2 separate regions of the Homo sapiens genome follow, and region 1 is linked to region 2. The links come from fine-mapping of genetic effects on gene expression. A gene starts in region 2. The other region holds a variant in brackets. All regions are shown on one strand. Distances are from middle to middle.

Region 1 (5,370 bases), 230 kb before region 2:
CATAATGGTTTTTAGTTTCCATGATGATTTCAGTTGTTTCTCTTCTGGAAAGCTGACGTCTTTGGAAGAATCAAGCTTCCTAATTAGATTGTCATCTCATTTGTGACAAGCACTGAGGAATTTTCAGATGATAATTGAGAGTCAAAAAGGCCACAACATTTTGCAAAGGTTTCCAGGCTGTGTGGGAACATCATAAAAAGATGGTTCTTCTCAAAGCTACTGAGATGACTACCAAATTTAAAAAAAAGAAGACAATAAAATAATCCAGACAGATTCACAGAATCCTAGTGGGGACTCATTTCTCTAGGACCAGAGGAAGGTCATGCCAAGGATCGCGTATTCTCTATTTTGCCCTCTACCTTGGAGGTAAGACAGCAGTTTAACTGGGGCCAGTGGGAAAAGAGGTGAGAAAAAACCAGGGCAGGTCTGAAATGTGGACATGAACATCAATGGGGCAAGGGACAGGGTGCAACTAGGCAGGCAGATCAGGGTCCCAGCATTTGTGTCCAGTCCATATGGTCTGATGTGAAAAGAACGACAGAAGAAATATCTAGGCCGTGGTGAAATACAGGTGTCTGGAATTGGCACAGTCTGAGAATTTGTGGGGAGACGATTTTAATCTAATTTAAATTAGGATCCTAGTTATAGCTAAGTGACCCTGGGCTAGGGTCTAGCTGTTGGGAAGAAAAGCCTAGAAAACACTAGCTGAGGTTCAGCTACTTGGGTGTTAACCTGGGTAGAGGCTGAATCCCCAGCATAGAGTAAGCAACATTGAAAGATGTAGGAGGTGAGGATGAACTTGGTGAGCAGCCAGGAGAAGACCTCACCCTAGACATATGGGACCAAGAAGTCCAGCAGCAAGGCCAAATCCAGAACCCAATCATTGGGAGAAAAGTGTGAGTAATTTCTAAGTCATGATCCTTAATTCTGTGCTCTTTTTTATAGTTTTATTTTTCTTTCTCATGGAACTCAGTCTGATGTATTCCATTATTATTACCCGACTAATTACTCCAAATGAATATCTCACAGCCTGTTCTAACAAGCAATGTCCTACACTCCTTTCCAAGACTTGTTTATTTCTTTGCTTGCTTGCTTTATTCTCTAACTACAAACTAGACACTTCCTCTGGGATGTTCCACCATCATTTTAAACTCAACATGTCTTCTTAAGCCAAATGCAACACCTTCCTTTCCCTTCTGTCTTAGTCTATGTCTGCTGCTATAACAAACTGCCTTAAACTTGGTAATTTATAAACAACAGAAATTTCTCATAGTTTTGGAGGCTGGGAATTCCAAGATCAAGGTCCAGCAGATTCAGTGTCCAGCGAAGGCCCATCCCTCATAGATCGTACAATCTAGGTGTCCTCATATGGCAGAAGAGGTGGAAGGGCAGAAGAGTGCTCCCTTCGACCTCTTTTATAAGGTCCTATTCCCATCTGTGAGGATTCTGCCCCCATAAGTTAATCACCTCCTAAAGGCTCTACCTCAATATTATCACGTGGACAGTTAAGTGTCAGCATATGAATTTTGGCAGACACATTCAGACCACAGCATATTCCTTTTTTCCTACCCCTCTTCCTCTCTCCCCAGCTTCTTTGTTCTGTTACCGGTATCTCCATTCTGTCACCCAACTTCAAAATCATGTAGCTATACTTTTGCCACCTTCTTAAAATAACCCAGAGTCAGAAAGTTCAGCATTCATTCATTCAAATATTACACTGAATGCAAAGTTAGACAAAACTTCATTTCAGATACTGTCCCCTCTTAGAAATGTACCTTCTTTCTGTTCATTTCTGCTTATTCCCACCACTATACACTCAAGGTCTTCATAACATGTATCCAATTATTGCAAAAGCTTCATATCAGGCCTCCATGATTCTGATTTCTACACCTTCTAATTCATTCATTTCTTTACATTAATTTTAAGGTACATTTTCATGTAGGCACTGCATTGTAATTCCCTGGTGCTTACCTGCCCCCGTCTCTAAACTCTATGCTCTTTAAGGGAAGGCCCACATTAATCTCTCCTACCATCATATCCCAGAGCCTATATCAGGATATGAAATACAATAGCTTCCAAGAAAATTTATTTAATGCTTGAAAATGTTCAATATCTCCCTGTAACTTGTTGCATCAAACCTCTACATCTCTGCTTAGTTCTCGTGTGGCCACAGATTGTCTATTTACCCATACTGCCCATTTCTTCACCACCTGCTCCCTCTGTATTCCTCAGGCTTATTTATTCACTCTATGCTAATTCCCATCTTCACTAACTTATCCCCACTGTCCTATTGCCTGAAATGCCTGCCTTTTCCCTCCCTTCCAGAGGGCCTTGACTCTGCACTCAGCTGCAGCAGGTTTTCCA[G/A]CTAAAGAGGGCAGTTGCAGAATGACAGCCATCCCTCTTCCTGCCTTCTCAGAGAAGCGTTCATTGCCCCCTCCCTTTCCACAGTGTCAGAGCAAGGACGTGCTCTCTCCCTCCTAAGGTTTTGGCAACTGAATGCAAGTCTGTCAACGATGCAAAGGGAGCCAAAGGGCAGAAAATAAAACCTGTCAGAGGCTACAAAGAGGTCCTTCGTCCAGCACCACCCCACAACCCCCAAGTTCAGCAGGGCAGGAGGGGAAAAGGGCAAGGAGGCTCACAGACTCTGCTACACCAGAGGTTAGCATTCATTTGCTTCCTAATTCCCCAGCCAACCTGCTTCTTGGGTAAAAATTGTGAACTTGGCAAACCTGTATTTTGTCAACAACGGTTCTTCAATCCCCTCAGCATTATTACCATCTGAAAGCTAAGAAGCTGGAACAGCTTTTCAGGGATGCAACAGGCTAGAGGCAACTGATCATTTCAGATACCCTTCACCTGTGGGTTAAGGAGGCCGGAGCCACATCCCAAACATCCTTTGCAATTGCCATAAAGCATAAGTTTAATTAAAACATTTTGTTACATGCCGTCTCAAGCACCAAACTCTGCAAGAGATTCTAAGTATAGAGAGGTGAAGAAGAAGTGGCCTCTGGTGTCGCAGCAGCCCTGGCATCCCAGCACATCCACCCACGAACTCAGTTACAAGCCCACAGAAGGTTTCCCATCACCACGTTTGTCCCTCTGGGGATAAACTCCCTCTAGAACCCACTTTCTTTGCCTCTCTGACCTTACTTCAAGCCACTTCTGTAGAGTTCTAGAGCTTTTTTTTTTTTTTAAAGACAGTGGTTCTGTCACCCAGGCTGGAGCTCAGTGGTGTGATCTTGGCTCATTGCAACCTTTGCCTCCCAGGCTCAGGTGATCCTCCTCCCACCCCAGCCTCCTGAGCAGCTGGGATTACAGGCATGCATGACCACACCCAGCCAATTTTTATATTTTTAGTAGAGACAGGATTTTCGCCATGCTGCCCAGGCTGGTCTCGAACTCCTGACCTCAAATGATCCACTAGCCTTGGCCTCCCAAGGTCCTAGGATTATAGGCGTGAACCATGGTGCCTGCCCCAAGATCTAGATTTTCTTATGCACTGCCCATCTTGCCGACTTAATGTTTTGCATTGTTCACTTCTTCCTTAATTCCGAAAGCTCTCTTTTGACTTTGCACTCTGATTCCCCTTTGCCTCCAGCTTCTCCCATACAGAGTCTTATAGGTCTTATTCTCCCATACAGATTCTTACAGGTCTGGCTATCAGAATCCAGGTCTGATGATGACTGCACAACATGGTTGGACTTAATGCCACTAAGTTGTACACTTAAAAAATGGTTAAGTGGTAAATGTTATGTTATGTTTATTATCACAATACAACATATACATATATATATCCCAAGCCCAGCCGGAGCCCCTAGACCTGGCCCCGGCAGCAGAAGCCATCACCTGCTGTGAAGGAACTCAGACTCAAATAGGAGATACACAATTTAACATCCATTAATTGAGGGAGAAATTACTGACCATCTACTACACGTTAAACACTGGGAACTGAGAATTCAGGGAAGACCATGAAAAATATACTACTGTCTTTATGAAGCTTAATCTAGTCTGGGACATAGTCATCAAGCAGACAGGCACAAAATTAAGTAATTCATTAAAATACTAATAAATGCAATGAAGGGAAGTACAGGGTCCTATGAAAGCACAGAGCTGGAGGATGGGGCTTCAGAGGAGACTTCCCTGAGAAAGTGACCTTGACACTAAGAAGTGAAGGACAAGCCATCATTTCCCAGGCAAAAGGGGTGTGGTGGGGATGGTGAGGGTAGGGCATTCAGGCAGGGAGAATGGCATGTATAAAATAAAGGACCTGTCACAAAAGGTAGGAATTAATGTGGTTCTTTTGAGGGACTGCTAGAAGCCAACATAGGGCCCAAGCAGAGAGGCACAAGACATCAGGCCAGCTGCCTGACACAAGCTCCAATAGCCTGAAGCACTAAACCTCCATGAAGAGTTAATGGCTCACATCTGTAATCCCAGCACTTTGGGAGGCCAAGGTGGGCAGATCACCTGAGGTAAGGAGTTCGAGACCAGCCTAGCCAGCATGGTGAAACCCCTCTCTAATAAAAATACAAAAATTAGCTGGGCATGGTGGCACATGCCTGTAATTTGGAGCTACTTGGGAGACTGAATCAGGAGAATCGCTTGAACCCAGGAGGCAGAGGTTGCACTGAACCAAGATCGCGCCACTGCACTCCAGCCTGGGTGACAGAGCAAGACTCTGTCTCAAAACAAAACAAAAAAAGAGTTAAAATTTGGAGGGAATCAGAGACTTTGAAATCAGAGGACGAAATTCCAGGCATTCCAGGCACAGAGGCTACCTGAGCAAAGGTTCTAACGTGGGAAATGCTGAGGGCATTTGGGGACAGGAAGTCGTCCTGTTTTAATGAAGTTCGCACGGGAAGGATAAGGAGAGGAAAATGGTGGATGTGAAAGATAAGAAGCAAGTTAAATAGAGTCCTTCGTCAGGATGGTTGGTTCTAGAACCGCAGGTAGGAGTGGCCTCCCCGGCTCTCACCTGTCTTCTCCTACCGCTGAGGGATGACCCTGCAAACCAAAACACCAGCTCTCAATCACTTGTAGAAAATCAACACCACAACTGAGAGGGACACAGCTCTCCAAGGCCTCAGGAGACAGCGCCAGAGGGAGCCCTCTCCTCGGGTTAAACAGTTTGAAAGCAGTAACAAAATTAGCCAAAGAGTTCAAATGATGGCAGGCTCGGGGGCCTTGGGGCCAGCACAGCACCAGAGTCCTCGATACCAATAGACCACATTGCTTCTTTGAGCCTTTGCTGGGATGCAAGCAGTCGAAAGAATTGAGCTGAGAAACCGTGAGATCCTCAGCTTGGTAGGTGGAAGCATTCCTGGCTGCATCTGTTAGCCCCAGATTTGACCATGGAATTCTGAAAACCTT
Region 2 (5,370 bases):
ATGACCTTTCCTTTCCACCCAGAACAACTGAAGTATCATGATAAGAGGAAGGGCTTTGTGTTTGAGATAAGCAGCTCCTATACCTGTCAGCTTTCTCTAATAAGAAAGCTCTTTCCTGCCACCGTATAGGTCACCTTCTTATTGGTAAAGCATGATGAAGTTTGGAAACTGTTGTCCTTGTTTTGTTGAAAGAAGCCAAGTTCCAAGAAATCTGCAGAGGCATTCCTACAATCCCTCAGCCATGGCAGCATGAATCCTGAAGGGGCAGTGAGTGCTGGTTTCTACTCTGTCTGCACAGCTAAGCCTAGGGGAGATAATCTTTTCATACAAGATGCATTCTGCTTTTGTGGGCCTCTTGCAGCCCTCAAGCCCCCATCTGATTTGTACACAATGATCCAGTGGGCCAGAGGAGCCCAGAGCCATGAGCGGCCCATCCCTCCAAGAACTATTTCTGACTGTCCAGTATCATGGAGCAAGTGGAAAGAAGAAAAAAAAAACCCAATTACTTTTCGAAGAGCAAGATGAATGCTGTAGAAGGAGAAGGAAGGGGAGGGAGATGGATGGGTGCCGATTCCAGAATCTTCAGATCTGCTTGGATGAATCATTACCTATGATTTGCGGGACAAGAATCTGATTTTATTCATCAACCAGTAGAAACTTTTCTTTCTGCCTCCCAACATCTGAAATCCAACAAACATGTGCCTTAGGAACATACCGGTCATCTTTTAGAGGCATTTTATATACATATTGAGTAACTAGAAAACACTCTTTCCGTAATACACACACACACACACACACACACACACCATCTTGTCATACAACACTCCCACGCAAGAAAAGCGAAACTGCTGTTTGATGAATGTAAACACTTGGCTGTTTGCAGCAGTCGGGAGTCCTGCCAGGTTTAAGTGCTAAGATGGGAGGTGAACCCCAGGGGTTTCCCCCTGCCCGTGCTGAGATCCTTATTTGGTCAAGCTTCTACCTATGCCCTGGCCTCGGAGCGAGCCCGATAGCGCTGGATCACAGCAGAGGGAGCGAGGCGGCTGACGTCCCATCCCGAAGAGATGAATGGAATTCCAGGAAGCTAGAGTCATGCTGGCTTGGGACAGTGGCTTGGAGACCAGACTTCAATGACAGAAGCACTAGGCAGCGGCACTCATGGCAATGTGTGCACCCACAGAAATGTAACCCACACCTCGGGTTCAGGAGCCGAAAAATGAAAAGAACGTTTAGGGAGGAAAAAGGGAAATACAATAATAGGCAGAGAGTAATTTATTACTCTATGGGTCTGCTCTGTAAATAGCTGAAGACTCTGGAGCCAGATGGTTCTGCAAATTCTCCAAACAGGAGTCACGTTAAGAAGCACGAGTGGGCACAAAAACTGTTTTTCAAGACACAATTTCAATTTGGCTTGTGGAAACTGGATACGAGTAAGTTTCCTTAAAATTCGAGTAGAAAGCAGCTGTCCTCCCCGGGCCCCTTGATGAGAATACGCACACCGCCCCCAAGCGGCCGGCCGAGGGAGCGCCGCGGCAGCGGGAGAGGCGTCTCTGTGGGCCCCCTGGCAGCCGCGGCAGGAAAGGGCCCGAAGGCAGCGAAGGCGAACGCGGCGCACCAACCTGCCGGCCCCGCCGACGCCGCGCTCACCTCCCTCCGGGGCGGGCGTGGGGCCAGCTCAGGACAGGCGCTCGGGGGACGCGTGTCCTCACCCCACGGGGACGGTGGAGGAGAGTCAGCGAGGGCCCGAGGGGCAGGTACTTTAACGAATGGCTCTCTTGGTGTCCCCTGCGCCCCGTCGGCCCATTTTTCTTTTTACAAAACGGGCCCAGTCTCTAGTATCCACCTCTCGCCATCAACCAGGCATTCCGGGAGATCAGCTCGCCCGAAAGCCCCTGCGCCACCCCGCGGGCCCTCCTAGGTGGTCTCCCCAGCCCCGTCCCTTTTCGGGATGCTTGCTGATCACCCCGAGCCCGCGTGGCGCAAGAGTACGAGCGCCGAGCCCGTGCGCGCCAAGGCTGCGTGGGCGGGCACCGACTTTTCTGAGAAGTTCTAGTGCTCCCAAGCCCCGACCCCCGCCCCCTTCACTTTCTAGCTGGAAAGTTGCGCGCCAGGCAGCGGGGGGCGGAGAGAGGAGCCCAGACTGGCCCCCACCTCCCGCTTCCTGCCCGGCCGCCGCCCATTGGCCGGAGGAATCCCCAGGAATGCGAGCGCCCCTTTAAAAGCGCGCGGCTCCTCCGCCTTGCCAGCCGCTGCGCCCGAGCTGGCCTGCGAGTTCAGGGCTCCTGTCGCTCTCCAGGAGCAACCTCTACTCCGGACGCACAGGCATTCCCCGCGCCCCTCCAGCCCTCGCCGCCCTCGCCACCGCTCCCGGCCGCCGCGCTCCGGTACACACAGGTAAGTCGCCCCCGGCGGCCGCCGAGGACCAAAGCTGCCCGGGACATCCACCTGGAGCGCTGAGGCTTCAGTCCCTCTGGTGGACCCCGGAACCTACACTCTCCCCGCTCGCCTACCCCAGCCCGCTCCTCTCAGCCGCTGGAGGACTCTTCAGGGCAAGGCTCCAGAGCCATCCTCTCCAGCCTTGAGGTTCACAAACCAACTCATCAGGACACCCCAAGATTTCCTTACTCTCTGAAGTCCTCCTTAAGCCTTTGTATCAGCACTCCAGGGAAGAGTCTGTACTTCCCCTGCCCTCCCTGCAACCCCAAACTACAGTTCCTGATCTTGCTCACCTTCGACTTCCCAAAAGCCCCCAAATTGTTGGTCTTGCGCCCCCCACACTTTAAAACCAGCATCTCTTTCCTCCACCTCTCTCTCTCTCTCTCTCTCTCTCTCTCATGCTCTCTGGAAAGTAATCCTGTTGTCCTTCATTTCAGCAAACGCGGGGTCAAAGAGGGATGGTCCCGGCCCTGTCCCCATGCCCAGCCCCGTTTCTGCGCACCGTCCCTCCCTGCCTAGCTGATCTCTGACCCTCGGCTCTTGTGCTTCCTGCTACAGGATCCCTGCTGGGCACCAACAGCTCCACCATGGGGCTGGCCTGGGGACTAGGCGTCCTGTTCCTGATGCATGTGTGTGGCACCAACCGCATTCCAGGTGAGTTTGTGTGGCACCTTTAGGGGAAGGAGGGACAAGGAAGAGGTGCTGGCTATCCCAGGTGTGCCCCCTCACGTGCTGTCCTCTCCCTCTTGAGCCTGACTGGACATCAGGACGCAGCTTCACTCTGATCCTGGTATTTATTCACCTCTTTCAGTGGTTGCCAGGAGTTTTCACCCCAACCCTTTGTCTCCACCCCTAAGGACTCAGCCCCCTACTGCTGGTCCCAGCCTAGAAAGCTCACTTTGTGTTCTCTCCTGTCTAACAGAGTCTGGCGGAGACAACAGCGTGTTTGACATCTTTGAACTCACCGGGGCCGCCCGCAAGGGGTCTGGGCGCCGACTGGTGAAGGGCCCCGACCCTTCCAGCCCAGCTTTCCGCATCGAGGATGCCAACCTGATCCCCCCTGTGCCTGATGACAAGTTCCAAGACCTGGTGGATGCTGTGCGGGCAGAAAAGGGTTTCCTCCTTCTGGCATCCCTGAGGCAGATGAAGAAGACCCGGGGCACGCTGCTGGCCCTGGAGCGGAAAGACCACTCTGGCCAGGTCTTCAGCGTGGTGTCCAATGGCAAGGCGGGCACCCTGGACCTCAGCCTGACCGTCCAAGGAAAGCAGCACGTGGTGTCTGTGGAAGAAGCTCTCCTGGCAACCGGCCAGTGGAAGAGCATCACCCTGTTTGTGCAGGAAGACAGGGCCCAGCTGTACATCGACTGTGAAAAGATGGAGAATGCTGAGTTGGACGTCCCCATCCAAAGCGTCTTCACCAGAGACCTGGCCAGCATCGCCAGACTCCGCATCGCAAAGGGGGGCGTCAATGACAATTTCCAGGTGAGGCTTCTTCTCTGAGCCCTGCTCCGTGGGATCATCTGCTAGACAGGTGACCTGCCAGGAGGGCTACAGGAAATCCTGTCTGTAAACTAACGCAGCAGTTCTCAGATTTTAGGCAGCATGAGCATCACCTGGAGGGCTTGTGAAAGCTCACCCTGCTGCACCCCAGCCCCAGAGTCTGGGATTCTGTAAAACTGCAACTCTAACAAGTACCAGGTGATGCTGATGCCGGTGGTCTGGGAAGCACACTTTGAAAACTACTCAAGGAAACAAGAAATGGTTTTCCTTTAGCAGTCAGCCTGTTCAAGCCTTAGATACTCCTTAGGCTCTTAAGAAAAGAGCTTATTTCAAATGCATTCCCCCAATTTTAATCTTGTTTGAAATGGATACTTTCTATGGGCAGAATCAGTACCACTTTGCTATTGGATTCCTCATGGGGATGCAGCTGGTCTCACATAAAAGGTTAAAATAGCAGTTAGTTGTTGCTGTTACAGCTTCATCTGTGCCTTAACTTCTAGATCTTTGCAACGGTGGCTTTGAACTCCCACATTTAACTCTTTGACACTGGAAAGTGTCATTATATCCTCTAGGCTTAGGATCAGATTCCATTTCCTGTGTACCCAAGTAGGCTGATAACTGAATTCTTTGTAAAATACTCAAGACTTGGCAGAAGTCACAATTAAGATTTTGAAGTTGTTTGGCGATTAATGTTGCTGTGTTATTTTGACATAGTGATCTTAAGACAGCTCTTTGAAGCTTTTAGAACATCTATTGTATGCTTTTCCTAGCATACAGACAGTCTCCCCCAACCCCATCCCCACCCCGCTCTGCATTCTACAAGTAATGTGTGTCCTCTGCCCACAGGGGGTGCTGCAGAATGTGAGGTTTGTCTTTGGAACCACACCAGAAGACATCCTCAGGAACAAAGGCTGCTCCAGCTGTGAGTACCCCTCTATTTTTAGGGCACATAGGGAATCAGGGGGAATTCCACCAAAAACAAACTGAGGAATTTAGCAATAGTGGTTATACATAAATTACCCCCAGTGAGATCATCAAGAGGCATACAGAAGTGACTCCAAGGGGTATTATACACACACACGTATACACACGTGCGCATACACGCAACCCCTCTACCTGCATCCTTCACACCAAATGAAACGTCTTCTACCACTAAGAACTCAAGAGGCTGGTTGGTAAGAGTATCTATTTGAAGTTTTCATTTTGTTTCTTGCCAGCTACCAGTGTCCTCCTCACCCTTGACAACAACGTGGTGAATGGTTCCAGCCCTGCCATCCGCACTAACTACATTGGCCACAAGACAAAGGACTTGCAAGCCATCTGCGGCATCTCCTGTGATGAGCTGTCCAGCATGGTCCTGGAACTCAGGGGCCTGCGCACCATTGTGACCACGCTGCAGGACAGCATCCGCAAAGTGGTCAGTGGCCTCTGCAC

The links. PIP is the estimated chance that this variant, and not a neighbour inherited with it, causes the effect.
Region 1: its variant is fine-mapped to the expression of THBS1 in whole blood (INTERVAL, PIP 0.99).

The regions. Positions count from the first base shown.
Region 1 is chr15:39,348,527-39,353,896 of GRCh38, forward strand. All of the region lies in intron 1 of LOC105370777 (a long non-coding RNA gene), which reads right to left. Among named protein-coding and RNA genes, the nearest start is that of LINC02915, 100 kb to the left of the region's middle. The variant G/A (reference allele first, on the strand shown) is at 2,365.
Region 2 is chr15:39,578,835-39,584,204 of GRCh38, forward strand. THBS1 (thrombospondin 1) reads left to right here and starts at 2,245. Exons shown (of 22, transcript NM_003246.4): 1 at 2,245-2,394; 2 at 2,995-3,090; 3 at 3,359-3,918; 4 at 4,783-4,858; 5 at 5,154-5,353. The coding sequence starts at 3,024. It overlaps LOC124903470, which reads left to right and starts at 973. Exons shown (of 1, transcript XM_047433405.1): 1 at 973-2,160. The coding sequence starts at 1,484. The coding sequence ends at 1,918. RefSeq lists an enhancer at 1,336-2,073 and silencers at 1,496-1,725, 1,736-1,785.